4 linked regions of the Homo sapiens genome follow. The protein of the gene in region 4 purifies or fractionates together with the protein of the main gene of each other region. This does not show direct contact. Each region holds a gene or a part of one and is shown on either strand. Other genes may lie near its edges.

Region 1 (7,562 bases), on a different chromosome or scaffold from region 4:
TAAAACATAGCACAGGAGATTCAGAGGGCTGGGATGACTTCTGAGCTGCTCTCTATACCCAAGGCCCTTTCAATTTCTAGCTGTGAAAGATTTTTCATGCACTGTGGTGCCTGATGTTTCCTGCAATTTGACAAAAATAAATACTTTACACAAGAAAAGGATGCAAGGCTTCTACGTTACACTTTGGGGATGCTCAGGAGCCAAGGCTCCTGCTTGGCTTTCATTTCACAGGGCCTGCAGCCTTGTCTCTGGAAGGTGCTGATTAGGACTGGGAATGGCCTCCTCTGGTCGAGACTCTCTGACCCCTAAGTAAATGAACTTGTTCCCATCCCAGTCTCCAAACAGATCCCAACACTACGTTTGTTTTTCTATATCCTGATTGTCACACCTGGAAGACTCTCCTTAGTATACATGAGGCTTACTGCCATGAGACCAAATGACTAGAGAGCATCTTTTAAGAGAAGCTTGCTCATTCAGGAAAAATTAAGGATTTGGTACAAACTGCAGGCCAAAGGGAAGCTGACATATTGTTTTGGTGTGTATTCTTGAAAACGCATCATTAAATCTACAGTCCCTTGTCAGCATGCTGACTTTTACGCTGCCTCAAGGAGTCTTCCACCACCTCTGTGTCAGCTGGGCAGGGTTGCTCAGAGATGCCTTCTTCAGCCTCCTCAGGCTCTACTTCCTCCCGGGTCACACCGTCCTCTCCTGGGGGCCCCTGATCATTGGCCTCACTTCTCTCCTCATCCACACCAGCAGCCAAGTTGTCCTCCTCCTCTTCTTCCTCTGCTTCATCCTCATCGCCAAGATCTTCTTTCTCTTCTTCATCATCTACAAGGCTGTCTTTGTTTTCTTCTTCATTTGAATCATCTTTTTCCTCCTCCGCATCCTGCAACTGTTCAGCTCTATGAGCCTCCTCTGATCTCCGATTCTGCTCTATGGAGGGAAGAAAGAGGAATATCCTCTGAATAAACAATGGTAATTCGGTAATCAATTGAGTGTGTTTAGCTGTGAAATAAAAATAGAGGGTAAGTGACAGTTTTTTCTATCTTGAAACTATGGTCATATAGGACAGATTCTCTGGTTGGCATCCTAGCCCCATTTAGGGCTTCTCCACCTGTCTCTGGAGATTTCATGGACCATAATGACTTCAGCAGGGCATGTGGGCAGCAAGGGCAAAGGGTCCTTTACGCTCGGTATTTTGTGTCTTGTAGAAAGCTCAGTGACCCTATTGGTCATGGTGATTGGTTCAGAAATGTGACATGCTAAGCCACTCAAAGTACTCCACAGAGGTTCTGGGCCAGAGTCAGGAGAAACAGCCTCTTTTTCTTCAGGGATTTTTAAACAGAGAAAATGCGCAAGGACTATCAACAGCTCTTATGAATAAGCCACACAGACAGAGAAACCTAACATCACTTGGGCCGTGCTTGAAGCTAGAATGTCCCTGGGCTTTTCAGTTATGTGAGCTAATAAATTTTCATTTGTTTTCCTAAAATCCTTGATATTGGGTTTCTATTACTTTTAAGAAATCTAAGAATCATATTTTCAAATTATCAATGGAAGTCTCAAAGCCTCAAAAACTTCAAGAACTAAAAAGAAACATGAGCTTATTTAAACTCCCACATAAAATTCAACAATTAGAAAGTCTCATGAACATCTTTATGCAGTCTCAAAAATAGTCTGGAATAAAGACATGCAAATCCAGAGGCACCTGGCCCCAGAAGAAGTGTGGAGCAGTGCAAGGATTTGGGAAGACTGCTTTTAAAGGACTTAGAAGAGTTACTAGCACACAGCAGAAGCAATATATATTGAGTTTCCCTTCTTCCCTTCTAGTTCTAGTTAGAATAAAGGAAAATATGACACTGATTAATGAAGAGCACATACTTAAAAAGAAAAAGCAATTGCCAAAATGAAATATTTCCTAATTTAAGAAAGGGAGAAAAATAATTTTGTTCAAATCTACCTAGAAAACACATTTTAAGAAATTTGGTAGTGATTATTTGGTCACCTAGTAAATCACAGAGAAAACCCACTATCTATATGAGCACAAAAAGGCACATCACAGAATTCCAAAAACACTCTAGATCACAGGAGCTTATCGTACTTACCAGAACGCTCAGATAAATGCCTTGGAAGTGGCACATAGAAACATTCTGATATTACCACCAAGACCTGGAAGGAAAAAAGTGATTTTACAGTGAATAGATAGGACATTTATTACCAAAGGACCTCAAAATTAGGCCTTGCTTCTATAATCAGATATTCTTAGACTAATAATTAGCAGCTAGTCAAAAGTCTTCACAAGAGACAAGGATATAATTAAGAATTTCCTACTTTTCAAATGTGACATAATACAGGAAAATATTAATTTAGAAAGTGGTCACAAAGCCAAAAGTCTACAGAGAACCCACTATAAATAGATGAACCAAGCAGGTATAAGAAGATAGACACTATGAACCAAGTCTTTTTAAATACACTATTCTGGACAACCAAACCACTCTGTATATAGGCTGCCCCTCACCAACGGGTAACCCCTGATTGAATGGAAGAACATTTCACAAATGTTACAGCCAGCTGTGGGTGGGGAAGGATTGAGGATGACTTTGAAGGAGGAGGCATTTAATGCCCTGGGCAGTCAGGAGAGAACAGCAGCACCGCCTGGCTGCTCTAAGCTAAACTAAGTTGGATCTCCATGGGGGTCTTGGATCCAGAGAAAGCCCTGAATGTCAAACTGAGGAGACCCAGGAGGTGGGGCAATGAGTTGCAGGAAGGCTTGGTGGGTTGGAGAACAATAAGCTCTAAGCCATTAAATCAATTTGAACAACAAAGAGAAAAAAAAACATTCCATCTGAAATGATTCAGGTTTGAAAACCTTACCTTTTAATGTGATAGTTATATGCTTACTGGCTATTCTAGGACATAATGTTTCTTTCTGACTTTTCTTTTTTATTTATAATTGACACACAGTAACTATATATACTGATGGGGTACAATGTGATGTTTCAATGCATGTATTACAGTATAATGATCAAATCAGTGTAATTACCATATCCATCATCTTAATTTATCCTACTCTTCTATTCTGGAAAATTGTACACTCAACAATTTTATCTCAGGTTTAGTCTATCTAATTTACTCATTTAATTTTGACTCAGTTGGTGAGATTACAAAAAAAAAAAATTTGGATCCTAGCTTCCCAACAGACATGTCATCCTTCAAGGAGTCTGGGCCATTCAGAGCCAGCCTCAGGCAGCTTTGTCCCCCAGTATTCCTTTACCCTGGCATGCTACGTAAATATTCTCTATGTGGCTAAGACATGAAAACAATTGACAAACACTTTTCTATCATCCTAGAAGTTAACAAAAATGTCATTCTGGAATAGGTGATTTAAATTGGGATAAGAATGCAGCTGTTTCAAATTGTGTAACTCTCACAAAACAGAAGTTGAAAGTACATAAGAAATTAAAGGTTACTAAAAGCAAAAATTCTAGCAGTTGTGTGTTTACTTTAATATACTTAACAGTTATAGAAAAGGCATTCTGTGTGTGTGTGTATATATATGTGTGTGTGTGTATATATATATATATATATATTTTTTTTTTTTTTGAGACAGGGTCTAGCTCTGTCACCCAGGCTGGAGTACAGTGGCAAGATTATGGCTCACAGCAGCCTCGAACTCCTGGGCTCAAGTGATCCTCCCACCTCAGCCTCCCGAGTAGCTGGGACTACAGGTGTGTGCCACCATGCCAGGCTAATTTTTGTATTTTTGTAGAGACAGGGTTTTACCATGTTGCCAAGGCTGGTCTCAAACTCCTGGGCTCAAATGATCCACCTGCCTCAGCCTCCCAGAGTGCCAGGATTACAGGCCTGAGCCACTGTGCCCAGCCTAAAACAGGTACTTTGAACACAGATATGTGTTTGTTATTTTTTGGAAACTTATTAACAGTAAATGTATGAATCTTTTATAATTTATGATTCATATGCTTTGAAATTATTATTTCGTTAATAAAGTTAATAATATTTTGTTAAATAAAGTTATTTTCTTATTAAGGAAGGGTAGTCTATCTCACTTAATCACTTGAACAGGCTAGAATCACTCTCTCCTTTCTTCAGGCCAAGCCTCCAATAACCTTTCTACACTGATTATCTGAATCTAGGTTTCCAAAGGAATCTAAGGCATAGGCAGGCAGGCCTGACTCAATTTCATGGACTTAAAGTCAACATCAAAAATAATATTCTAAAACTCTAAGCATTTTCACTAGTCTTCCAACAGGGTCACACACAACCTACATTCCCTATAACTCCATCATTGACTCGCCTGGGACCTCATACTGTTTCCCCCTACAAGAACCTCACACTATGGTAGCCCCAAAATACACTGCTAGAAAAATCTCGCACCAGACAACAGATGGGAGAAGCACAGACAATCACATTCTATTTATATCCGGTGTCAAATCCCTTTAGACGGGAGCAATGGGGACATGTTAATTAGCAAAAAGATTAATGCAACAGAACAGAACATACCCAGGACCTAATGAAGGACATATACAGATATCTAAGTAAGTCCCATTCTTATCCCTGAAGTTAACATCAGGAGCCAAGTTTCAAAGATAAGCCATGATATGTATTAAGCATGTTCATAGAAAAGTCAAATCGAGCCTCCTTGGCCTCTTGGGGTTGTGACTTACTATAAGTCAATTGTTAACATTTTTAAAAAGAACTTGCTAAAGAGCCAAAATTCATTATAAAATATAAGGACAGACTTTAAGATAATCTTACCTTAAAGTCTGTTCTTTGACATAAATTTTTAGTAATCATCAATTATTCCCATTATAGTGTTTAGGAACTATGTGTTTAGTATACAATATAAAGGTTTTTAAAAACTTTTTGGTTTAATTAGGGTTTAAAATGCAATCAAACTAATCAAGATTAGGTTAAGAGAAATAAAAAATAACAAGAAGTACAACATGCTGAACATTTATAGTTGCCTATGTAGTTAGATAAATAAATTTATTATTCAACTCTTGCCTGAAATACCTGGGGAGAAAATACCTGGGGAGATATATACTGCATACTGATTTTCATGCCCAAAGAATAATTGTGTTGTGTTAACTACATTATCTATCTCAGGAAAACCAGAGTGTATGCATAAGCGGCTAGTCAGGATTAGTTTAACTGGAGGATAAGAACAACAACAACAACAATCTTGCATCTACACAAGGAACAAATTCAAAACCTTGGCCTTATCACTACAGTGTTTCTAATTAAGCAGGCAATGTGTGAAATCACAGCTGACTCAGTTGTCTTAGAAACTATCAATTCTAGTAAGGTCTCTTTTTTTTTTTTTTTTTAATTACTGTCTATAGGCAGTACACATCTTCAAAATACTTAAGGGATAGGATTAGGGGATAAGAATTTAATAAATTTTCTGTTATATCTCACATTACCATTGAAAGCAGTCTCAAACAAGCAAATGCTATTTAACTACTTAGATTGCACAAAATACTATTTTTTATGTGCTTTTTCTTTCTTGGCTGCCTTTTATTTGTACATGAAATTCATTTTGCCTTAAAGATAGAAAAAGTTTGGTATTATCTCTTACCAGACCCATAAAAAGGCCAAAAACCAAGGTGGCTATGACGAAAAAGACATAAGAACACCAAGCAGGAATTCCAAGAGTCACTGTGAAATAGTTGTGAAGATGCTGGAATCAGAAGAAAAAAAATAAAACATTAATTTTTAAGAGAACCAAAAATATTTCAATCTCTCTCTCTAGCTGTTGTTTCTACATACATAGGTTCCCACAAAGCTTTATGTATCTAAATGATTCTTAAAGAACAAGTCAATTTTATAATATTGGGAAACTGAGAGTAGTAATTAAGGTCATTACTAAAAAAAAAGTTATACTTGCTTAGAGTTCATAATCTGGATAGAATTCTGGTAGAATCGTTTTGATAGTCCTTTCTTCCATCATGATGGATGCTTTTGGCCCTCCTCCCCTAATAATTATATACATCTCAATGTTTACTTATAATAGGGCATTCATGAAAAAATTAAACTTTTTGGGCCTCTGACTTTTTAGTAAAACTAAATTACGACTTACAGAACGTCAATCATTTAAAATGTCTCCATACCTCTTTTTCCTAATTAGACTCTCATTGCTCTACACCTATTCATCCTTTCAAAGTTTGGTAAATTACCAGAAAACATAAAATGTAACAGTAGACAGAAGAAAGTTTTTCTGATTAATTTATTATGAGCAAATGAGATTCCAGCAGTCTTTGAATAGAGTGTATATCCCTTCATGCTTACTGTTCCCTAAGACTCTATTTGATGACAAACACTCTAAAAATGAGTGAAGGGACATAATCACAGCTAGAAAGTATTTACATGCTAAATCATAAAGAAATTAACAGATATGAACTTGCTATTTCAAAGTCAAAACCTACTTAGATGTAGAGTTGCAGGAGCCATGCTTCCTCACAATCACTTAGTCATTTGTTCAAGACCCTGACAGCTTCAAAAATGGCCATTAAAATTCAAGTAACTACTGGACACAGGATGATATGGCTCCAAATATCATCAGCAAGAGAGGTAATGACAATGACTTCCCTAGAACCAGTAAGGTTGATGAAAATGAGTCCAAGTTTCTATTTTAATTTCCTATTTCTCAAAATCTAAATCACTCCCATTGGTTTCTTAGTTTATGTCAATGCAATTAAAAAACATATTTTATTCTGGCTTAATTTGGAATGATAAATAAAGAACAAAGCTTGTAAACTGATTTAGCAAAATCTGAAATATCTCTCTACAATTTCTTATTCAGCAGAAGAGATAGAGCTAAAGACGCAGCAAGTAGTTTAAACACTGACACATGGAATCAAAGTGTTCAATCAGTATTTGTTGAATAAGGAAAAGATGCATCAAATGCCTGAGCTATTTATTCATACGAAAGGCAAACACACTCTCAAACTGTAAAGCTGGCATCTGTCCTCTGTTGATGGCACTGGTCATCAGTGTGTGTTTAGCCAGGACAACTGTTTATTAAGAGTAACTTGGCTGGACACGGTGACTCATGCCTGTAATCCCAGCACTTTGGGAGGCCGAGGCGGGCAGATCACGAAGTCAGGAGTTCGAGACCAGCCTGACCAACATGGTGAAACCCTGTTTCTACTAAAAATACAAAAATCAGCTGGGCGTAGTGGCAAGCGCCTATAATCCTAGCTACTCAGGGGATTGAGGCAGGAGAATTGCTTGAACCCCGGAGGCAGAGGGAGTGGGCTGAGATTGCGCCACTGCACTCCAGCCTGGGTGACAGGGCAAGACTCCGTCTCAAGAAAAAAAAAAAAAAAGTAACTTAGCATTTTACAACTCAGCAAGCAAAAGGCGTGTTTGAGATATCAAAACATCATTTCATTCAAACTCTTTTCAAAGAAAGTTTTAAAATTTACTGTATAGTTTCCTACTTTAGAAAATACTGTGTATTAAGCTTATGCTTTTCTCGGAGGACTCAGTATCATCAATATTAAACCCGGAAATGTGCCAAAGAATTAGAAGATGGT
Region 2 (7,562 bases), on a different chromosome or scaffold from region 4:
ACACAGGGTGGCCACTTGGCCATCATCACCCGGAGAGCAAATGAAGAGAATGTGTTGGCCTGACCCAAAGCCTATGTTTTTGCCCCTGGCTCCACCTACACCTGCCCTGGTGTTTGGAGGAGTTTCTAGGCCTCCCCCTTCAAAGATTTGCCCCACCTCCCGGTGTCATGCCTGAAACCCACCATGGTTGCTTCTGACCTTGATGTCCTGAACTTCCCTTGGCATCACAGATTCCCTGGAAGGAGCCCCAGATCAGGAATCAGGAGGGGATAAGTCCCTTTCTTTCTCTAGGCCTCAGCGTTCTCCATTTGTAAAATGGGGGAAGTCCACTGCCTGGCGTTCCTTCCAGGCAGGATGGGAGCCCGGCTGGTGGCCAGCGACACTCACTTATGCAGCAGTTGGATGCGCAGGCTCCCATGGCTGGTGGCACAGTCACTGAGGACCAGGCGGGTGGGGCCACTTGCACTGGTGTCCATGCGGATGGTGGCTTGGGCCTCAGTCGTCATGTGGAACTCCACGATGGTCTTGACCAGGGGCCTAGCGGGTGGAGGCACCTGACCATGTGAGCACCAGGCAAGCTCGGGCTGGAGCAACCCTGCCGTCCGTCTCTGTCTTCCAGCCCTCACCTCCTTCCTCAGTCTCCTTTGCTGGTTTCTCCTCATCTTCACCCAACTTCACCCCAGCATGTCCCAGGCTCAGTTTTCAGACTCCTCTTTGGTTGAAACGTCTTTCGTCTGCTGACAGCTTCCAAACTTACCCCCAGCCCCCTACTCCGATGTCTCACGGGCTTCTCAAGTTTAGCGCATGCAACACTGGACTGGCTCTTCCCCAGACCTGCTCCTCTCATGGCCTTGCCTGTCTTGGTTACTGACCACTCCATCCTGCCAGTGGTGCAGGCAGAACTCTTGGAGTCATCGTTGACTTCTCTCTCTTTCCCCCTGAATACACATGCATATTCAGTTCCCCGGGATATCCTGGTGTCCCCACCTACCTCCAAAACATATCCAGAATCCAATCAACTTCTCAGCACCTCCCTGCCCCAAACCCTGGTCTAAGCCATCATTATCTCCTCCTGAATTGTTGCAGTAGCTTTGGGATAGCCTTCCTGTCTCCACTCTTACCCCCAGAAAGTCTTTTTTCCCCACAGCAGCCAGGAGTCTTTAAAAATGTGAAAGCACAGCATATCCCTCCTCTGCTCAGAATCCTCCCTGGCTCCCGTCCTACTCAGCAAAAGCCAAGTCCTTATCTTCTCCCAAGAGGCCTTGTATGATCTGGCCTCGGCTGCCTGCTGGCCTCATCTCCTACCATGCCCCCTCTCTCTTTCCCCTGTCTTTGCCATTCTTTGAGCAAGGCAAGTACACTGCTGCCACAGGGCCTCTGCACTTGCTCTTCTCTCTGCTCGGAACTCTCTTTTCCAGACACCTGCATGGTGGGGGCGGGGGAGGGGGAACGAGCAGATGAGCCTGTCAAGCCTACTGTACTTGATGGAGGGGTCACTCACGTGTTGAATCCAGCCACCATGTCCAGGGGGATCTTGACTAGCAGCTCCTGGTCATTGGCCGAGGGCTTCACCTGCAGCTGGAGGATGTTAGCTGTGATGACCTTCAGCCTGGATGGGGTTTAGGAGAGATCAGAATCATGCCTCCGGCTCATTATTCCCAAATCCACTCCCTCTCTATCTTTTCCATCTCCCTGGGGTGCCTAGGCAGCAGCGGGACCCTGGCCCTGCCCACCGACTCCTCTCCAGATGGTCTTGCCTCCATCCCTCCCCTCCACTCCTGCTCACAATGCTATTATGGTGCCTTCTCTTCTAGGTGGTGACTCCCAGCTCCTTGAGCTGACTCATAAGACCCTCTGTGACCTGACCCTGCTGATCCCTTACTCCTTGCCTTGAGGTTTGAGCTCTAGCCATTCTGACCGACTGTCACTTCTCCATGCCTTTGCCCAGCCTGATTCTTCTACCTGGATGCCATTTGCTTCTTGTCTCCTGGTGAGCATTGAGTCATCGGCTCCACTGTCACCTCCAGTGAGAAGCATCACCTCATCCCTTCCCTGTGCCACCCCAGACAACCTTGCTCTGGGTTGTTTTTTTTTTTTTGTTTTTTTTTTTTTGAGACAGAATCTCACTCTTGTCACCCAGGCTGGAGTGCAATGGCACCATCTCAGCTCACTGCAACTTCCACTTCCCAGGTTCAAGCGATTCTCCTGCCTCAGCCTCCTGAGTAGCTGGGATTACAGGCTTCTGCCACCATGCCTGGCTAATTTTTATATTTTTAGTAGAGATGGGGTTTTGCCATGTTGGCCAGGCTGGTCTCGAACTCCTAACCTCAGGTGATCCACCCACCTTGGCCTCCCAAAGTGCTGGGATTACAGGCTTGAGCCACCGTCCCTGGCCTTGCTCTGGGGTTGTTGTATTAGGGTTCCTGTGTCACTGTCTTATGGTTCTTGTTAACTATTCTGGGAGCTTCTTGACGGAGGGGCTTTGTTTGATCCACTCTTTGTGATCTGACACAAGTCGATGCTTGCAGACTGGTTGACTGAGCATGCAGAGCGTGTCCCGGGCAAAGGTGTGGGAAGGGGCTAGCTCCTGGTGTGGTCCTGCTCCACTCACCAGATGATGTGCTTCAGGACGGTGTTCACCAGGCTGCCCAGCACAGGGATGCCTCCGGCTGGCTTTTCCCGCATGGCACTGAGCAGCGGCAGCTGCTGCAGGATGCTGGTGGCGTTGTGGTCCTTCAGCTCCTGTGTCAGCTCTGGAGGCAGACCCCAGGGATTAGGGCCCAGGAGGAGGGGCAAGAAGGAAGGCTTGGTGGGAGCTCCAGGCTGGGGAGGGGTATCACTCGAGGCTCCCTGAGGTAAGGCGAGGGTGTAGCCATCTCTACTGTGGTGGAGGTCAGGACCAGCCTGCCAGTCCCCACTGTGTAGATGTAGCCTTGAGGACAGTAGCCCAGATGGGTCGTTTTCACATCAGGAGCGAGGCTGGGACCATTCACACCCCTGAGCATTGCCAGCCTCTGTGGGGAGTGTCGGCCACTGCACTCAGCACCTGGACCTGCACTCATCCCCTGAGCCAGTTGCAAGCATTTCTAGGGCCAACAGGCAGGGAACCCTCAAAACTCTGTTTGGGGCTGTTTTGCTGCCAAAGCACACTTGTTAACAATTGTCTGGCATCCATATCCTATGGATGTGTTGTCCAAAAAGCCTCAAGTGCTGAGCAGAGGAAGAAGGAGCCAGGACAGAGGCATAAGTGTCAAGAGCCCTGGGTTCTTGTCCCAGCTGGCTTTTTGTGAGCAGCTAGAGCCCATCTGGCTCATGTGCAGAGCAGGTCAGAAGTGCTGGAGAGCTGATGCCCCAGGAGCAGACTTCAGCCAGTGATTGGTGAGAGTTGGTGTATCAATATCCCAGCTCCCTCACCCCTCAGGCAGGATGGCTCAGATGTGTGTCCCTCATTGTGTATCAGAGCTCCTGGGTTATAGCCTCTCAGCTGCAAATCCACCCACTTTGCCTGCTCTGTGGTAATGGAACTGGGCCCAGTGAATATTTCTTTTTTGCCATTTGGCACAGTGTTAAGCCCTTTCAGTGGAGACTCTGGAGGGGCATGGGGGGGATTCCCTTCATGGCTCTGGTGTGCTTCTCTTTCCAGGTTCCTATGGTGTCACTGCCCAGTGGCTTTTGCTGAGTGAGTTCTGCAGGCACCCTGGCTAGCTTCTAGGCAGTTCCCCAGAGACAGCTTCCCCGTGAGTTAACAGCAGCCCCCTTCCTCCAGGGGCAGCTTCCCAGAGAATTTTATTGGCCCCCTGGCAGGTAGTTCTCCACCCACTAGCGTCAGATTGCCAACTGTGGACCAGCTCTGGCCTGGGACAAGCCAGCAAACTTCTCCACCACACAGTGGGCTTCAACCACACCCTCTACAAAGAGGGCTGGGGAGGATTCTCTACCTCTGAACTTGCTCTGTCCTTGGCTACCCCCTCCATCCCTAGGTTATCCTTTAGAGCTCTGTCTGTTTTCCCTCTTAGCCAATTCCTCATTCTTCCAATCCCCTGGTAATACTTCTTTACATTAAACTTACCTGTTGGCATTTACTGTGTGGTTTCTGTCTCCTGAATGGCCCTAATAGATGCAGTTGCTAGGCAGGACTGAGCTTCAGTCGCCACAGTGGTAACTGGCTTGGACATGCACCCCTCATGGGATGCCTTTCCTTCCCTGCCTTGCCTCCCCACACTCCTGTAGGTGTTTCTGGGGTCACCTTCAAAACCAACCACTTGTACACAACTCCTTATAGGAGAGCCTAAAGCATGGTTGTTCATCTCTAAGCTCCTTCTGGCTGAAATTCCACATGCTTGAGCTTCACAGTGTGGATCCAGGCCACCTCTGCCTCCCTCCAACCTCTCAGAGCCCTCTGCTTCCCGTCCTTACTTGGGAATCCATCCGCTGGCTACAGAGCCTGTTGGTCCCACAGGACCTGCCCCTGCCCCTCTGGCCATGACCCAGGCCCCTAGTCCCCCTGAATGCAGAGGTCTGGTCCTCTAAGTGCTCAAGTGGCCTCCAGAGCTGACAGGTGAGTCCCCTCTAAGGGGATGAGACTTTAGAGTAGTCGTTCTCCACTGAGATGATTTTGTCCCCTAAGAGATATTTGTCAATGTCTGGAGACCTTTTTGGTTGTCACAGTTGGGTTAGGGATGCTGTTAAACATCCTAAAGTGCCCAGGACACCCCCCATAATAAATAGTTGTTTGGTCCACAACATCAGAAGTGCTGAGGTTGAAACCATGGTCATAGCATTCATAAAGCTCTAGTCAATTCCAACCACCCAGTGAGGAAGGCCCTCTTATTTGTGTCCCAAGGTGGAAGCTGAGGCTCAGGGACTGGCCCAGTGCCCCAGAGCTGGAAAGTGATACACTGTGCCTGGGACCCAGGCTGCCACACTTGCAGTCAAGGGTCTCTGCTCTGGGGAGGAGGAGCACACTGGGTCTAACTAAGACGGGGTGCTCTGACGATGGGATTTCAGGTGAAGGCAGTGGGAGAGGCAGCTGCATCACTGCATGCAGTGGCTGCATGCCCCTTCTGCAGGCTGTGGAAACTCAGGGTCTTTGGAACTGTGGAATTTAAGAAGGGGTTCTTGGAATCGTGGACTCTTGAGATCACAGACTCTCCAGACCTTTACAACCTCCCACTCATGTTCACCCACGTTCTGGGATCTCAGCCATGCACATCCCCCGTGATGAGGAACTCTCTCCCTCCTTTGGGAAGCTGCTCCACCTACCCCCTTGTCTTATGGCAGCCAGCTCCGGAGGGACAAAACTTACTTTCTTTGATGACTTTTGGGCCGAGGATGAGAACTGCAGTGGGACTGAGGGTGGCTTGGATCAAGGTGGCTGCCAGCAAACCACAGAGAAGGGTGAAGGTCCACGGGCCGGCCATCTTCCCAGGTGTCAGAGGGCAGCAAGTGCAGGATGCCAGACCTGGGGTGAGCACAGAGGGACCTGAGGCAGAGGGGCCAAGGGCAGGCCCATGATGCCCGGTGACCTGGGGCACGGTGTCCAGGAGAGGCTGTTGAGTGCAGTGTTTAACTGCCTGGGCTAGCTGTGTAGCCTTAGGCAATCAACGTAACCTCTTTGTGCCTCAGTTTTCTTATCAGACAAATGGGGATAATGACCCCAGCTTCCCAGAGTTGAGGGATTAAGTGAGTTAATATCTGGAAAGCATTTAGCACGGTGTCTTTCACATGGTAAGCACTTGGAATGTATTAGCTATTTTCTTTCTTTTTTTTTTTTTTTGAGACAGAGTCTCGCTCTGTCACCCAGGCTGGAGTGCAGTGGTGCCATCTCGGCTCACTGCAAGCTCCACCTCCTGAGTTCACACCATTCTCCTGCCTCAGCCTCCTGAGTAGTTGGGACTACAGACACCCACCACCGCGCCAGGCTAATTTTTTTTTTTGTATTTTTAGTAGAGACGGGGTTTCACCGTGTTAGCCAGGATGGTCTCGATCTCCTGACCTCGTGATCTGCCCACCTCGGCCTCCCAAAGTGCTGGGATTACAGGCGTGAGCCACCGCGCCCAGCCTGTATTAGCTATTTTCTTACAGAAAATCCAGCAACAATGCTCAGAACAAAGAACTTCTGCTTCCCGTGTCTCCCACCCCTCAGTCTGACACTTAAAACCCTCTATGGTTCACCGTCTGCTGACCTCACCTCCTGCTTTCTCTCCCCTTGTTCTAGCAAGTTCCAAGCAGTTGGAAGGTCTCAGAACATACTGTGTTCTCTCCTGTGTCCGTGCCTTTGCTCTTGCTCTTCCTTGCTTCCTGGAATGCTTTTCTCCTCCCATATCTCCCTGATGAACTCCTATTCATCCTTTAAAACCCTGCCAAGATTTGTCACTTTCCCTATAAAGCTTCCCCTGTCCTGCAGACAGGGAACCTGGACCACACTTGGAGAAATGTTGTCCTGGGGCCCAAGACATGAAGGTTGGAGGCAGGAAGGAAATGAGGAGCCAGGTAGGACTCAAAGTTGTGAAAAAGCTCTTTGCTTAATCTGCAATACTAAGGGGGCTGGGGAGGGACTGAATGGCTTCTTGGAGCCAGGAAAAGAAGGGCAGAGAGAGAGAGAGAGAAAGAGAGAGAGAGAAAGGGCCCTGTGGCTCATGCCAGGGAGAGGAGCTTGGGGGTATTCTGGCCCCTTGGCTGCTCTGTCCCCTCCCTCCACAGGGGTGTGGCATCAACATCTGTAGTCCAGTCCTGAGCTCTCCAGCTTGCACCCTGGCTCTGTCTGCCAGCCCCCCATGGAAGCTCCTGCCCCTGTGGACTGTCCTGCTTGGAGGGAGGGGAGACGCTGCAGAGATCTGAGCCCCTCGCTTGGTTCAGCATGTGGATTTCTTTTTGCCAAAGACAAATGTGGCATCCGGATGACATGTGTCTCCTGTGCCCTGGAGCAGTGTGAGCTCTTCTGAGACCCTTGCAATAATGATTCAGCCTCTGCTTCCCTGACCAAGCTGTGAGCTCTGGGAGGGAGGGCTGGGTCTGCCTGCTCCCTGCTGTGTCCCTGGCATCCAGTATAGTGGTTGGCATAGACCAGGTGCTTAATAAATGGCTGCTGAATAATTGCATAGCCTCTGGAAGCCCCGAAAGAATTGGAAATCTGAGCCTGCTAAGCTGAAAAGGTTAGTGTTAGGAGGCCTGAAGGTGGAGGGGAAAATATTATTGGCTTGGCAGCCAGATGAACCCTAGTTGGAGGCCTGCCTCTACCACTTGCTCTGTGATCTTTGACAAGTGACTTACCCTTTCTGAGCCTCCATTTACTCATCTATAAAATGGGGAATAATTATAGTACTTATGTCATAGGCTTTTTGGGAAGATTAAATGAGACAATCTATTTGTGGCCTGGCATGGCCAAGCGTTCAGTAGATGGTAGCTTCCACGATAATTATGACAGGTATTATTACTAATATTGGAGTCAGAAGGAGACACCTTGCAGCCAAAGCCAGAAGACAGAGCTGAACCCCGGCATCCAGGCACCCCTGTGGCCCCACTCCATATTTTCCTTGCAAATACCTTGACTCTGTCTGTCC
Region 3 (7,562 bases), on a different chromosome or scaffold from region 4:
AGCCTGGGGCCACAGAGCAAGACTCTGTCTCAAAAAAAAAACAAAAAAACAAAAAAACAAAAACAAATAAAAAACCCACAAAAAACATAGAACAGAAGCAGTTCCCACTGTTACGAAGTTACTCCAACTTTCTAGGGCTACCCTGATTGATGTACCAGGTCCTTTACTGGGACTAGAGGGGTACAAACTCTAGGAATCCTGTAGCCTTACCTCAAACCACAGGAAGAATTCCTAGAAGTACTATGAAGTAAACTGTAATGAGAAATTGATAGCTTTCAGACTATAAAACCGTTCAAATATAGTGAAAGAAGAAATAAAATAATTCAGTATCAGATTTTCCTTAGGGGAATGAAAGCAGTTTGAAAAAAGGTTATAAATGATCAGTGACACGAACCAAATGAAACTGACAGAGCAAACGGCATATTAAATCAGACATACTGGATTTGAAAAGTTATTCATTGCATTCCCTTCCTCCATTCCTCTCGTTTGAAAAGTATCCAACCTTGAGCCAGTTTCTTTGTTTTGAGACAAACAGTGCTGGGATTACAGGTGTAAGCCACCAGCCCGGCCCCTGAAATCAGTTTCTTGACCACAATTTCTTATCCTAGGGATCACCAGGTGGGCCTATGAACCTACTAAAACCACATGCTAAGTTTGCGGGGGATTGTATTTGTGCGGACATTTCCTCTCATAAACATGTTTCATCTTAAAGGTGTCTAAAGGTATCTATGATCTTTAAAAGCAAGGATTTCACTGTTAAGTCAAAACAACTTCTTGAACCATTAGTAGTACTGTACCGTACATAGAACATTAAATCGGCACAACATTTAAATACATTTAAAATGGCATTACATTCATTCTTAAAAGCTATTTCAGATAATGGCACTGCAGGGCAATGCTATTCCAATTAAGAATGTAACAGGCTGGACGCGGTGGCTCACGCCTGTAATCCCAGCAATTTGGGAGGCCAAGGTGGGTGGATCACCTGAGGTCAGGAGTTCAAGACTGGCCCAGCCAACACAGCGAAACCCCATCTCTACTAAAAATACAAAAATTAGCTGGGTGTGGTGGCGCATGCCTGTAGTCCCTGCTACTTGGGAGGCTGAGGCAGGAGAATCACTTGAACCAGGGAGGTGGAGGTTGCAGTGAGCCAAGATCGTGCCACTGCACTCCAGCCTGGTTGACAGAGTAAGACTCCGTCTCAAGAAAAAAAAAAAAAAGCCTCTCCCTCTCCCTCTGCCTCCTCTCCCTCTCCCCACGGTCTCCGTCTCCCCACGGTCTCCCTCTCCCTCTCTTTCCACAGTCTCCCTCTGATGCCGAGCCGAAGCTGGACTGTACTGCTGCCATCTCGGCTCACTGCAACCTCCCTGCCTGATTCTCCTGCCTCAGCCTGCAGAGTGCCTGCGAGTGCAGGTGCGCGCCGCCATGCCTGACTGGTTTTCGTATTTTTTTGGGGGAGACGGGGTTTCGCTGTGTTGGCCGGGCTGGCCTCCAGCTCCTAACCGCGAGTGATCCGCCAGCCTCGGCCTCCGGAGGTGCCGGGATTGCAGACGGTGTCTGGTTCACTCAGTGCTCAATGGTGCCCAGGCTGGAGTGCAGTGGCGTGATCTCGGCTCGCTACAACCTCCACCTCCCAGCCGCCTGCCTTGGCCTCCCAAAGTGCCCAGAGTGCAGCCTCTGCCTGGCCGCCACCCCGTCTAGGAAGTGAGGAGCGTCTCTGCCTGGCCACCCATCGTCTGGGATGTTAGGAGCCCCTCTGCCTGGCTGCCCAGTCTGGAAAGTGATGAGCATCTCTGCCCGGCCGCCATCCCATCTAGGAAGTGAGGAGCGTCTCTGCCCGGCTGCCCATCGTCTGAGATGTGGGGAGTGCCTTTGCCCCGCCGCCCCGTCTGGGATGTGAGGAGCGCCTCTGCCCGGTCGCGACCCCGTCTGGGAGGTGAGGAGCGTCTCTGCCCAGCCGCCCCATCTGAGAAGGGAGGAGACCCTCCACCTGGCAACCGCCCCGTCTGAGAAGTGAGGAGACCCTCCGCCCGGCAGCCGCCCCGTCTGAGAAGTGAGGAGCCCCTCCGCCCGGCAGCCACCCTGTCTGGGAAGTGAGGAGCGTCTCCACCTGGCAGCCGCCCCGTCCAGGAGGGAGGTGGGGGTCAGCCCCCGCCAGGCGAGCCGCCCCATCTGGGAGGGAGGTTGGGGGGTCAGCCCCCCGCCCGGCCAGCCGCCCCGTCCGGGAGGGAGGTGGGGGGTTCAGCCCCCCGCCCGGCCAGCCGCCCCGTCCGGGAGGGAGGTGGGGGGGTCAGCCCCCCGCTTGGCCAGCCGCCCCGTCTGGGAGGTGAGGGGCGCCTCTGCCCGGCCGCCCCTACTGGGAAGTGAGGAGCCCCTTCCGGGAGGGAGGTGGGGGGATCAGCCCCCGCCCGGCCTGCCGCCTCGTCCGGGAGGTGAGGGGCGCCTCTGCCCGGCCGCCCCTACTGGGAAGTGAGGAGCCCCTCTGCCCGGCCAGCCGCCCCGTCCGGGAGGAAGGTGGGGGGGGGTCAGCTCCCCGCCCGGCCAGCCGCCCCGTCCGGGAGGGAGGTGGGGGGTTCAGCCCCCCGCCCGGCCAGCCGCCCCGTCCGGGAGGGAGGTGGGGGGGTCAGCCCCCCGCCCGGCCAGCCGCCCCGTCCGGGAGGGAGGTGGGGGGGTCAACCCCTCGCCCGGCCAGCCGCCCCACCCGGGAGGTGAGGGGCGCCTCTGCCCGGCCGCCCCTACTGGGAAGTGAGGAGCCCCTCTGCCCGGCCACCACCCTGTCTGGGAGGTGTGCCCAACAGCTCATTGAGAACAGGCCATGATGACAATGGTGGTTTTGTGGAATAGAAAGCAGGGAAAGGTGGGGAAAAGATTGAGAAATCGGATGGTTGCCGTGTCTGTGTGGAAAGAAGTAGACATGGGAGACTTTTCATTTTGTTCTGTACTAAGAAAAATTCTTCTGCCTTGGGATCCTGTTGATCTGTGACCTTACCCCCCAACCCTGTGCTCTCTGAAACATGTGCTGTGTCCACTCAGGGTTAAATGGATTAAGGGCAGTGCAAGATGTGCTTTGTTAAACAGATGCTTGAAGGCAGCATGCTCGTTAACAGTCATCACCACTCCCTAATCTCAAGTACCCAGGGACACAAACACTGCGGAAGGCCTCAGGGTCCTCTGCCTAGGAAAACCAGAGACCTTTGTTCACTTGTTTATCTGCTGACCTTCCCTTCACTATTGTCCTATGACCCTGCCAAATCCCTCTCTGTGAGAAACACCCAAGAATGATCAATAAAAATAAAAATTAAAAAAAAAAAAAGCATAGAACAGAAAAGTTTAGTTTTCTTCTACTCAGGAAAGTGAGAGCTTATATTCTTTAAAGTTAGCCTGTGGAAATGTATCTCTTCCTCAGTTATCAGCTGCTATGTCTTAAATTTTACATGCTAAACTGATTGAGGATTTAGTATATGGCTAATCACTCTTATCCAAAGTAAGGGTGGTATTATTAAAAGTTCAGTTTATTAGTTGGTTTAAATATCCTCTGACTCTCAACAGCTTTCCATTAAGAAAAAACTACCTTAATGGGGCATTAAGTTAAGGAATAGAGAGTAGAGAATCTAGATGAGGATTTCCAAGGGAAACAAATCATACGTAACGTTTATTCAAGAAAGTGAAGAGCACACTATGTTAATTTTAATTTCGCGTACCCAGACCTTATCTGTCCATCTCTCTGGTTTATCTGGACTATTTGGAGACCAAAGGGAAGAAGGGGAGTAGAGAGTGGACAGGTAAGAGGACAAAGACAAGGTAGCTAAAAGAACAGCAGGGGACTGAGAGAGCTGTAACAGTTCTCCAACTGGGAATCAGAAATTCTCTGCAGAGTAACTATCTGGAAAAAGTAAAAAGGGCTTTTAAGATTCTGGTTGGCCAAGCACTGTGGCTCCCCAGCATTATGGAAGGGTGAAGCCGGAAGATCGCTTTAGCCCGGGAGTTCGAGACCAGTCTGGACAACATGGTGAGAACCTGTCTCTACAAAACATAAAAAATTAGCCAAGCATGGTGGCGTGCATCTGTGCAGTGAGCCGTGATCTCATCACTGCACTCCAGTCTGGGTGACAGAGTGAGACCCTGTCTCAAAAAACAAAACAAAACAAAATTCTGGTTAAGGGCTGGGCATGGTGGCTCATGCCTGTAATCTCGCCACTTCGGGAAGCCAAGGTGAGCAGACCACTTGAGGCCGGGAGTTCAAGACCAGACCAGCCTGGCCAACAAGAACAACAACAAAAAGAAGAAGAAGAAGAAGAAATTTGTCAGGCGTGGTGGTGTGTGCCTGTAGTCCCAGCTTCTCGGGAGGCTGAGGCAAAGGACCACTTGAGCCAGGAGTTTTGAGTCTGCAGTGACCTACGATCGTGCCACTGCACTCCAGCCTGGGTGACGGAATGAGACCCCTTCTCAAGAAAAAAAGAAGATTCTGGTTAAAATCAAGAAATCAAAAAAGAGGCAACTAGAAAAGCTAGGAGACAAACGCAACTATCTGGATTTCCGTAATTATAGATATCAGTAATCTATAAACACATGTCAAAGGCAAAACAATATGATTTCTAGGTATACATTCCCCATTGGGGCACCCATCCCAAGGCTGCTTTCCCTTCAAGCAGTGGTCTTTACCTTTTGAGGGATCACAGACAAATCCACTAAGAAACTGACAAAAGCTACAGAATCACCTAGAAACGAAATACCTGGGAACACACGTACATAAAATTTAGCAGTTTCAGGAGATTTGCAAATACCTTTCAAGTCTGATCCCTGGATCCCAGACACTGTTTTAAAGGCCTCAAGTCCCAAAATGACCCTACCTATTATAACACATCCACTCCCTCCTAGCCATCAAAATTAAGACGATTCCCTCTGTGCCACTGATCTCAAATAGATCATAAGAAGAAAGCACTACAGGTAGTCACATGGGTAAATTAGGGCAGTGCTGAAACGAGAATCAGAAGGACTGGATTTGAGTCCCAGTTATGACACTAGCAGATATTGTAACATCAGATAAGTCACAACACTGTATTGGCCCAGTGTTTCCTCAGCCATAAATGAGGGGTTTGGAATAAACTAAGGTGCTGACATTTTAAAAGGGAACAGTTTTCCTGTGTTTACTGAATATTTACTGAGCATCTAACATGTTTCAGGTCCCGTAGGTAGGTGGTGGGAAAACAAAGAAAAAAAAAGACCACCCTCAAGGAGCTACACAGAACAGACAAGTAGACAGTTACAAAACAATGTGGTTCATATTCTAATAAAAGAATATAGAGAACTAAGAAATGAGAGAAGGGGGAGCATTTAACTTTGCCCAAGGAGACTACGGTCTAGTCTTGAAGATGTTTCCCAAATAGATATGGTAGGCATGGAGTATATCCAACACATGAAGACTCCAAGGTGTGAGAGAGTAGCCAATCTTCAAGGGAATTCAGAGTTTGTGCAACCATGTAAAAGCACTGAGATTAGACAGCAGGCAGGAGAATGTGTAACTAGTAGGCAAGGGAAGTGTTTTAGAATAAGACAGCTTTGATTCACCTGCCTAACTGGCTGCCCCGCTGTAAGTATGAGAAGAACAGTGTGCACTTGATATCTGACTTCTAAAAATTAGCTGACTCACAAATGGTAAAAATTGTTCTCTAGCAATATTTGAACTACAAATTTCTAATAAAGAAAAATGGCGGCCAGGCGCAGTGGCTCATGCCTATAATCCCAGCACTTTGGGAGGCCGAGGCAGGTGGATCACAAAGTCAGGAGATCAAGACCATCCTGGCTAACACGGTCAAACCCCGTCTCTACTAAAAATACAAAAAATTAGCCTGGCGTGGTGGCGGGCGCCTGTAGTGTTGGCGGGCGCCTGTAGTCCCAGCTACTCAGAAGGCTGAGGCAGGAGAATGGCGTGAACCTGGGAGGCAGAGCTTGCAGCGAGCCGAGATGACGCCACTGCACTCCAGCCTGGGCAACAGAGCAAGACTGTCTCAAAAAAAGAAAAAGAAAAAAGAAAAATGGCCAGGCACAGTGGCTCATGCTTGTAATCCTAAGCCTTTGGAAGGCTGAGGTGGACAGATTGCTTGAACTCAGGAGTTGAAGACCAGCCTGGGCAAAATAGTTAAACCCTGTCTCTACAAAAAATACAAAAAAATTAGCCAGGCCCAGCTACGTGGGGGACTGAGGCAGGAGGATGTCTAAAGCCCAAGAGGTCGAGACTGCAGTGAGCTGAGATCACGCCACTGCACTCCAGACTGGGTGACAAAGTGAGACCCAGTCTCAAAAAGAAAAGAAAGAAAAAGAAAAAAAAAGAAAGAAAAAGGAAAAAAAGAAAGAAAAAGAAAAATGTGGCTGGGCGTGGTGGCTCACACCTGTAATCCCAGCAGCACTTTGGGAGGCCGAGGCAGGTGGATCACCTGAGGTCAGGAGTTCAAGACCAGCCTGACAAACATGGTGAAACCCCGTTTCTACTAAAAATACAAAAATTAGCTGGGCGTGCTGGTGGGCACCTGTAATCCCAGCTACTCGGGAGGCTGAGGCAGTAGAACTGCTTGAACCTGGGGGGAGCAGAGGTTGCAGTGAGCTGAGATCACACTACTGCACTCCAGCCTGGGGGACAGAGCAAGACTTGGTTTCAAAAAAAGAAAAATGAAGTCAGTCAGGAGTTCCATTGTTTATAAACCCTAATTAATCAACCAATTTCCAAGAGGCTGAGGTGAGAGGCTCACCTGAGCCCAGGAGTTTAAGGTTGCAGTGAGCTATGATTGCACCACTGCACTTGTACTCCAGACTGGGCAACAGAGTGAGAACTCTTTAAAAAAGAAAGGAATTTAAAAATAAATAAGCCAAATTCCTTCTGAGCCATCACTTCTTAGAAACAACCCATAACATAGCTTTTGCGATTCCCCAGTTTTAGTCTTTTCCTCAGTAGGCACACAGACTCCATTCCTTCTCTCTGCCTTTCTCAAAGCTCAGCCTGATGAAGACAGCAATCAGCAGTGACAAAAGGAAAAGCCAAAAAGGGATCATGAACATTACTCAAAAAGTCAGAATTAACCTCACACAATCAGACCAAATTAAACTTTTCCAACTGCACCCTTTGTTTTGCTGTTCTTGTTTTAGAGACAGGATCTCACTCTGTCACCTAGTCTGTAGTGCAGTGGCACAATTATGGCTCACTGCAGCCCTAACCTCCTGACCTCAAGTGATCCTCCCACCTCAGCCTCCCAAAGCGCTGGGATTACAGGGATGAGCCACCGCCTGGCCAGCACTCTTTCACGATCAATTCTTCCACCTGTGTGCTCTTGGTCCCATTGACTCTTGCTTTCTAAGATTTCTGGCTCCAACAATCATCCCTTCTATTTCAACCTCCACCTCTCTCTTTAGGTTCATCCCTGCAATCACATAAATATATCAAGTTGCCCTTTCCTCGTAAAAAGTCATTCATTCAGCACATATTTTCAAGTGCTTACTAAGCACCTGATACTGTGCAAAGCACTGGCAGTGCCTTCATGAAACTCTGAAGAAGTAATAAAAAATATAAA
Region 4 (7,562 bases):
GGTGTGTGCCTGTAATCCCAGCTACTTGGGAGACTGAGTCAGGAGAATCACTTGAACCCAGGAGGTGGAGGTTGGTTGCAGTGAGCCAAGATCGTGCCACTGCACTCCAGCCTGGGCGACAGAGCAAGACTCTGTCTCAAAAAAAAAAAAAAAAAAAAAAAAGCTTTATTTGGAAGCAGGGCTAAAGTTGTTTTGATTTCAGTGGGACCAGACTGTTTAGTTCATGTGTGTGACTAGAGAAGCAATGGGCTCTGGCCATGGGTAGGAGATGCAGCCAAACTAGTGTGAGGACAATAAAGTTGTGGCTGGTTTACTTTTCCAAAGTCCAGTCTGCTCAGTAAACCTGGTTAACATGTGCAAGCGCATCTGTGTCTGCAGCCACAGGGCCCAGGGCCATGGAGCTGGGAAAGGAGGAGAGGTCTAGCCCCTCTGCTTGTGGCTGGGCTGGCGTCATCTTCCCAGAAGCAGTAGCCCTTTCCCATGTTGGGGGACAGGCAGGGCTGGGGCTTTGGGGAGCCAGGGACACGGCTGCACACAGGGACCCTCTGGCTCTGGTCCTGCCCTTTGGGCTCCCTGTCTGTGGACAGGCCCCATAAACCTTGGTGCCTCATGGGACCCAAACAGGTGCTGAGCCCAAGTGGGAACGTGAATTCTGGTGTGAGGATAGAGTGGTAGGGGAAGGCTTTTGGAGGAAGCGGACTTTGAGTTGAGTCTTGCAGAAGGAGGATTTCAGGATGCACAAAAGAGGAACTGGTGTTCTTGGTGGAAGAAATGGACGCGTGCAAAGTCTGGGAAGTGTGTGTGCCCACACGGCTGGCACAGCCAGAGTGTGAGGCCCATGAAGGGGTGTGATGGGATGTGGATTTGGAACACTTGATATTACCATGATTATTGCCCTTAAAGCAGCGTCCACATTGGCCATAACCAATCTGGGCCTTGCTTCCCTCCTCTGTAACCTGGGGAGAATTGCTCTATTTCTTCTTGGGCCCACAATATGCCCTGGCAATAAATGAGTCCTATTTTCTCAAATTAACACATTAACCCAATGCTCAGAGGACACCTTTTACAGTCAGAAAAGCTCAGGCTCAAATCCCAGTTCTGCCCCTTCTTCACTGTGGAACTCCTGGTAAGCTTCTCTCTCTGTTTTTTTCCCCCAAGATGGAGTCTTGCTCCATTGCCCAGGCTGGAGTGCAGTGGCGCAATCTCAGCTCACTGCAACCTCCACCTCCCGCGTTCAAGCGATTCTCCTGCCTCAGCCTCCCAAGCAGCTGGGATTATAGGTGCCTGCCACCATGCCCAGCTAATTTTTTGTATTTTTAGTAGAGACAGGGTTTCACCATATTGGCCAGGCCGGCCTTGACCTCCCAAAGTGCTAGGATTACAGACATGAGCCACCGCGTCCAGCCAAGCTTCTCTTTACTGATCTGTAAAATGGGGATAACAAGCTCTACTCAGAAGGAGTGATCAACATAATTGTACATAAAGGCCGGGCGCAGCATGAGCCTGTGGAAACAGGAGTTCCTCGCCCCCCAACCCTGTCCCCACCTCCATAGAGGCTCTCACTTACATAGGAGGCCAGCAGGGTGGTCGGGGCCAGGACGAGAGCCAGGTAGAGGCAGGGGGCTGTGGCAAGCAGGCTGGAGGCGCAGATGAGGGGCTCAGCTCCTGGAATGACTTTCTTGTACCTCCTCGCAGCTTCTGCCCCCAAGATGACCCCAATGACGCCGGTCATGATGGTCAGTGCCCCAAAAATCAGGCTGATGGGGAAGAGCACAGAAGGGTTGGTCAGCTGGGTGAGCTTAGCATAGGGACTCTTATCCTGCTCCCAGCCCCAGGTCTAGCCCCTCGGCTCAAGTGCATGATCTGGTGTCTACAGGGAATATGGCTGTGGGCCCCTGACCTGACCCAGAACCTTACCCACCCTCCTCACTGATACTCCCAGGGACCAATGTCCCACTGCTCTCCCCTACCCCCTTTCCTGCCTCATCTCCTGTCTCATCCTGGGGATCCCACTGGCCATGTGGGTGATCACCCTGCACCCCAGGTCCCAGCCTGCCTCATCTCCATTGACCCTTACCCTTTCACCCCCCAAAACTGCCCCACTCAAAATCTGAATTCCAGGGTCCCACCCTGGCCCCAACCTTCTCTCTTTCCAGCTCCCAGTACTAAGAGGAATGGAGGGAAGCAAACATGTATTTACTGAGCCCCTGTGATACACCTGGCCCTTGTCTGGGCTCTCTACACGCCCTCCCTCCTTGAATCCCATCCTTCCACTCCCCGTCTTTGAACCCCTCTCAGGCAGCCCCTACCTGACTTCCGTCCCTTTCCCACCCACTTTTAGAGCCACTTCTACTCTGCTTGGCTTCCCCTTGTACATCCTTCCTGTGGAGACCTGTCCCTCCAAAATAACCTCCACAAAGGCTCCCCAGGAGTGCATTTTGTGGCAGGAGATCTGTGGTGGGAGGAGTTCCAGATCAGAAAGATTTTGTCTCTACAAAAAATTTTTAAATCATCCAGCCTTGGTGGCGTGCACCTGTAGTCCCAGCTACTCAGGAGGCTGAGGCGGGAGGATCGCTTGAGCTCAGAAGTTCGAGGCCACAGTGAGCTATGATCATACCACTGCACTCCAGCTTGGGCAACAATTCCCAGATGGATAGGTGAGCAAGGTGAGGCTGAGAAAAGTCAAGGCCAAGATTACCCAGCTGGTAAATTACAGACCAGGATTTGAATATACTTCTTCACCCTCCTGGTCCATTGTGCAACCTCCAGCCCCCTTTTAAAGGAGCTCAAAGGGGACCAGGCAAGGTGGCTTAAGCTTGTAATCCCAGCACTTTGGGAGGCCGAGGTGGGTGGATCACTTGAGGTCAGGAATTCAAGACCAGCCTGGCCGATACAGCAAAACCCCGTCTCTACTAAAAAAAAAAAAAAATACAAAAATTAGCTGGGAACAGTGGTGGGCACCTGTAATCCCAGCCCACTCAGGAGGTTGAGGCAGGAGAATCACTTGAATCCGGGAGGTGGAGGTTGCAGTGAGCTGAGATCACACCACTGCACTCCAGCCTGGGCAAGAGAGCAAGACTCCGTCTCAAAAACAAAACAAAACAAAACAAATAAAGGAGCTCAAAGGGAACGCTGAGACTGTGCCCACTGTGAACTCTTGAAAACACCAGTCCAACCAGGATCTTTCCAACCTCTCAATAGCTCCCTGTCGTCCTCTGAGCAAGCTCCTGACCAGCACTGATGACTCTGCGGGACTGGTCCACGCTGACCGATGTAGCTTGCCCTCTCTTCTCCCACCCTCACTTTGCACAAATGACTGAGAATTCTCTAAATTCTCTACCAAAAGTACAAAAATTAGCTGGGCGTGGTGGTGTGCGCCTGTAGTCCCAGCTACTTGGGAGGCTGAGGCAGGAGAATCGCTTGAACCCGGGAGGCCGAGGTTGCAGTGAGCCGAGATCGTGCTACTGCACTCCAGCCTAGCAACACAGCAAGACTCTGTCTCAAATGGAAAAAAAAAAAAAACAAAGAAGAAGAAGAAGAAGTGCTTTCTAAACCTTCCCAGGCTTCCAAGCTGTGCGAGGTCTGGCTCAGCCCAGTCAAATGACCCAAATCCCGGATGTATGCTAGCTGCCTCTGAGTCCTGGTCTGGGCTGACCTTGGCAGGTTCTCGAGATATTCATGAGACTTAGGATTGATTATTTAGACAGGCTGCCTGAAAATGCACCCCCGCCAGCCCCTAAGCAGGAGGGGCAGCCAGAGGACATGCCCCAGCTACCAAGCCCTTCATGTTCCCTCCATCCACACAGGGCCCTCCCAGCATCACAGACTCTTACAGCCAAGAGAGCCCTTAAGGATCTGTAAGTTCGGCCGGGCACGGTGGCTCACGCCTGTAATTCCAGCACTTCGGGAGGCTGAGGCGGGCCAGTCATTCGAGGTCAGGAGTCCGAGACCAGCCTGCCCAACATGGTGAAACCCCATCTCTACTAAAAATACAAAAAAAAAAAAAAAAATAGCTGGGCATGGTAGCACATGCCTGTAATCTTAGCTACTCGGGAGGCTGAGGTAGGAGAATCACTTGAACCTGGGAGGTGGAAACTGCAGTCAGCCAAGATTGTGCCACTGCACTCCAGCCTGGGCAACGAGAGTGAAACTCTGTCTCAAAAAAAAATAAATAAAATAAAATAAAATAAAAATAGCCAGGCATGGTGGCGTGTGCCTGTGGTCCCAGCTACTTGGGAGGCTGAGGTGGGAGGATTGCTTAAGCCTGGGAGGTCGAGGCTGCAGCGAACTGTGTTTGTACCACTGCACTCCAGCCTGGTGACAGAGTGAGACCTTGACTCAAAAAAGAAAGAAAAGAAGAGAAGTAAGGAAGGGAGGGAGGGAAGGAGGGAGGGAGGGGTAGGGAGAGAGAGAGAGAGGAGGGGAGAGGGAGAGGGAGAGGGAGGGAGGGAGAAAGAAAGAAAGAGAGAAGGAAGGAGAGAAGAGAAGAGAGGAGAAGAGAGAAAAGAGGAGGAAGGAGGAGGAGGAGGGAAGGAGAAGGTAGGCGTGGGTGCAGTCAGCAGAGGACGAGTGTCGCCAAAACCCTGGGGGAGGATGGAGCTCCAGGGAAGAAGATAGCATCCCCAGGAGCCCCCAGGACCCACCAGGACAGGGTCAGAGAGGAGGAGGGGACTGCAAGGAGGCTGGAGAGCAGCCCCTGGAGGCAGGGAGGAGGCCGGGGTGAAGGGTTCCAGGAGGAGGAGGAGAGAAGGAAGGGAGGATTGAAGGATGTCCTTGACTCAGCATCAAGTGGTCACTGGAGCTCTTGGAGAACAGGGTCAAAGGCGATAGGAACAGAAGTGGAGCCCAGCCGGGCAGCAGACAGCCAGGCAGGAAGCGGGAGAGGGCGTGCCCTGAGGGCAGAGTGCCCGCGCCTCCCCTCCCGGCAGCCTTCCCACACACGTGAAATCCCAAAACCAGCGAAGTAACAAGGCCTCCCAGGCCCCAGTTTGCCATCTGTAAAATGGGATGCCCTCACAGAAGACGCTACAGGCCCCTCTAAAGGGTGGCTGCCTAAGGCTCCTCTCATCCCACAGCCCCACAGAAGCCTCACCCCCATTTCCAACCAGTGCCTTCTGGAGCCCACAGCAGCCCCAAGAGTGGAGATATGGGGAATTCAGCCCAGAGAGGACAAGAGAGTTGGCCATGGCCACCCAGAGTGGCAGAGGCTCAGCCAGAGCCAGAGCCAGGCCTCCTGCTGCCATCTGGGTCCTGAGCTCCACTGTCTTCACACAGCACCAAATGCCCCACCCCAAGAAACTGAATTTTGGAGCTCAGAACCTCAGAACTTCCTCAGCAAGAGCCCCCGAGCCGGGCCAGGTGCCCAGGGCCCCCGGATGCCCTCACCTGTCGGGGTTGCTGCACGGCTCCTGGAAGCAGGGAGGCTGCAGCCCGTGAACCACGCGTGCCTCGAGCAGAAACTTGGGGGCCCAGAACCCCAGGGCTCCAGTCACAAAGGCCATGGCGGTCACTCCGAGGGTCGACCACACGAAACTCCAGCTGCAAGACGAGGTGCCCCAGCTGGAGTTGGGAGAGGGCTGGGGCTGAAGGGGCCTGTCCACTCCTCCCCACTCCTGGGCAGTCTAGGAACTTTCCCATCTTGTCTCATTACCTTCAAGATTCCATAGGTAGCATTTGCTACCCCCTCTTTACAGATAGGCAAACTGAGGCTCCGAAGAAGAAGACACTCAGGTTACCCCAAGCTCCAGCCTCCAGATCCTTCCTGGCAGCACCCTGAGCTCCAGCCTCCCCAACATTTCTGAGACCCCCCCAACTCACACACCTTGCCTCCTCCTCCCTCCTCTCTGCAGGACCAAATCTCCCCATCCTGGGAGGCCCCCATCCAGCATCACATTCTCCAGGAAGCTGTCCCTGCCTGCCCTGTCTTCCTCTGAGTCCTCCCGACCAGTTTCACAGCTCAGTAACAGAATTGAATCCTGTCCATGCCCTGCCTTGCAGTGAATCATGAGGCCTGGGACCAGCAATTGACTCCTGCCTGCCTCCCCCAGCATGGCTGGCACAGAGGATCATGCACGCCATGAGGCTTGGAGAGGTGAGTGATGAATTCCCAGCATCCTCCCAGCAACCCGGAGAAGGGGGCAAGGCTGGAGAATTCCATCCATTGAATACAAAGGACGTTGAGGCTCTGAGTGCTGGAGCCACTTATGGGCAGGGCAGAGGGAAGGCTGGGGCTCACGCCATCTCCCTCCCACTCTGTCCATATTTCTGTCACATGGCAAGGTGATGGAGGCTGAGCCCTAAGGGAGGGAGAGGCACTTCAGTTGGTAAGTGCGATCTCAGAGGAAGAGGAGGGCTGTGAACACTGGGACAACCAGGGAGGGCTCCCTGGAGGTGGAGAGAGGGGGTCAATGATGCTGGGGCAGACAAACGGGCTTTTCTGTGCCTTGCAGGGGGTAGCAGGGATACTCACTTTTTCCCCAGGTATCTGACGTCCTCACACCAGCTGCTCCTGAAGCCTCCCACGGCCCCCTCCCCCTGTGTCTCGGCAGCTCCCCGGGGTGGGTCTGGAACCAGCAGGATAAGCAGGATCAAGGCCACGGCCTCCAGGCAGGGCATGACCTGGGGACAGGAGGGCCCAGGAAGCTCAGGGCCGCATATTATCACAGCCCAAGGGACCCCCGGGGGCAACTGGCCACAGTATCAGCCAGTGGCTGACCTCTGGTTTCCAAGCCCTGGGGGTAGTGGGGGTGACCTGATTCCTGGATGCTGGTATCCACAGAGCAGGATGTACCACTGTTTCTCAGCCCTCACCACTGCAGCCTTTCCAGGGAGTGGAGACTCTTTGGGACTTCATGTAATTCCCGTCTTTCCAGTACAGACACCAGTCTTTTGAGGTCAGTGGGCCTGAGACGGTTGAGAACAGGGACCCTCGCTACACTGGCCCTGCCTCCTGAGTACTTGCTGTCCTAGAGCTGATCTTTCCCTGGCCCAGGCCTCCATCTGCCACACAGTCCTGCCCTGGCATCCTCTCCTAGCGGCCCCTCTGCTCAAACCCCAAGGACGGGGATCTCACTACCCACCTTGGGGCAGCCTTCAAACAGCTGAGACCATGAGAAGGTTTATTCAAGCCAGGTCAGACCTGCCTCCTTGAAGCCCACCCCACCCCCAAAATTCCAAATCTGGCTTCAGCACTTCACACGCCAGCTCCCCGGCACTGGGCTGGCTCCACAGTGGTCTGCGCGCAGCCTGCATTCCCACCAAGCTGCACTCCCAGGGCTGAGCTCAGCACCCTCCACTATGGAGTTCCTTCCTCTTCAGAATGGTCCCTCTCCATGCCCACGTTGGAAACACAAGGGCTGGAGCCCCAGCGGGGCCTGCCCGGCATCTTCTTGAGCATTCTGCTGAACTGCTGAGCAAGCCTAGCTGCCAGTCCTCAAGGGCCTACTCTACACCCTGACCCTGCGGCTTGGAACTTCCATCTCTCATCTCACTGATCCTCAAGATGCCTTAGGTAGCATTTAGTACCCCCGCTTTACCGACAGGCAAACTGAGGCTCTGAAGAA

Evidence for each region.
Region 1: the proteins of SPNS3 (region 4) and TMX4 purify together in Homo sapiens (affinity purification with mass spectrometry; one large-scale study listed by BioGRID and IntAct). This does not show direct contact.
Region 2: the proteins of SPNS3 (region 4) and BPIFB1 purify together in Homo sapiens (affinity purification with mass spectrometry; one large-scale study listed by BioGRID and IntAct). This does not show direct contact.
Region 3: the proteins of SPNS3 (region 4) and PTPN2 purify together in Homo sapiens (affinity purification with mass spectrometry; one large-scale study listed by BioGRID and IntAct). This does not show direct contact.

Annotation. Positions count from the first base shown.
Region 1 is NC_000020.11:7,981,686-7,989,247, forward strand, and holds part of TMX4 (thioredoxin-related transmembrane protein 4 precursor), read right to left. Parts: intron 5,705-7,562; coding exon 5,603-5,704; intron 2,173-5,602; coding exon 2,109-2,172; intron 937-2,108; coding exon 566-936; 3' UTR 1-565.
Region 2 is NC_000020.11:33,283,932-33,291,493, reverse strand, and holds part of BPIFB1 (BPI fold-containing family B member 1 precursor), read right to left. Parts: intron 5,462-7,562; 5' UTR 5,421-5,461; coding exon 5,306-5,420; intron 2,754-5,305; coding exon 2,612-2,753; intron 1,610-2,611; coding exon 1,502-1,609; intron 538-1,501; coding exon 388-537; intron 1-387. UniProt on the Homo sapiens protein: May play a role in innate immunity in mouth, nose and lungs. Binds bacterial lipopolysaccharide (LPS) and modulates the cellular responses to LPS.
Region 3 is NC_000018.10:12,872,018-12,879,579, forward strand, and holds part of PTPN2 (tyrosine-protein phosphatase non-receptor type 2), read right to left. Parts: intron 1-7,562. UniProt on the Homo sapiens protein: Non-receptor type tyrosine-specific phosphatase that dephosphorylates receptor protein tyrosine kinases including INSR, EGFR, CSF1R, PDGFR.
Region 4 is NC_000017.11:4,447,211-4,454,772, reverse strand, and holds part of SPNS3 (protein spinster homolog 3), read right to left. Parts: intron 6,619-7,562; coding exon 6,470-6,618; intron 6,085-6,469; exon of another isoform or gene 5,866-6,084; coding exon of another isoform or gene 5,822-5,865; intron 5,539-5,821; coding exon 5,386-5,538; intron 1,758-5,385; coding exon 1,568-1,757; intron 1,425-1,567; coding exon of another isoform or gene 1,317-1,424; exon of another isoform or gene 187-1,316; intron 1-186. UniProt on the Homo sapiens protein: Sphingolipid transporter.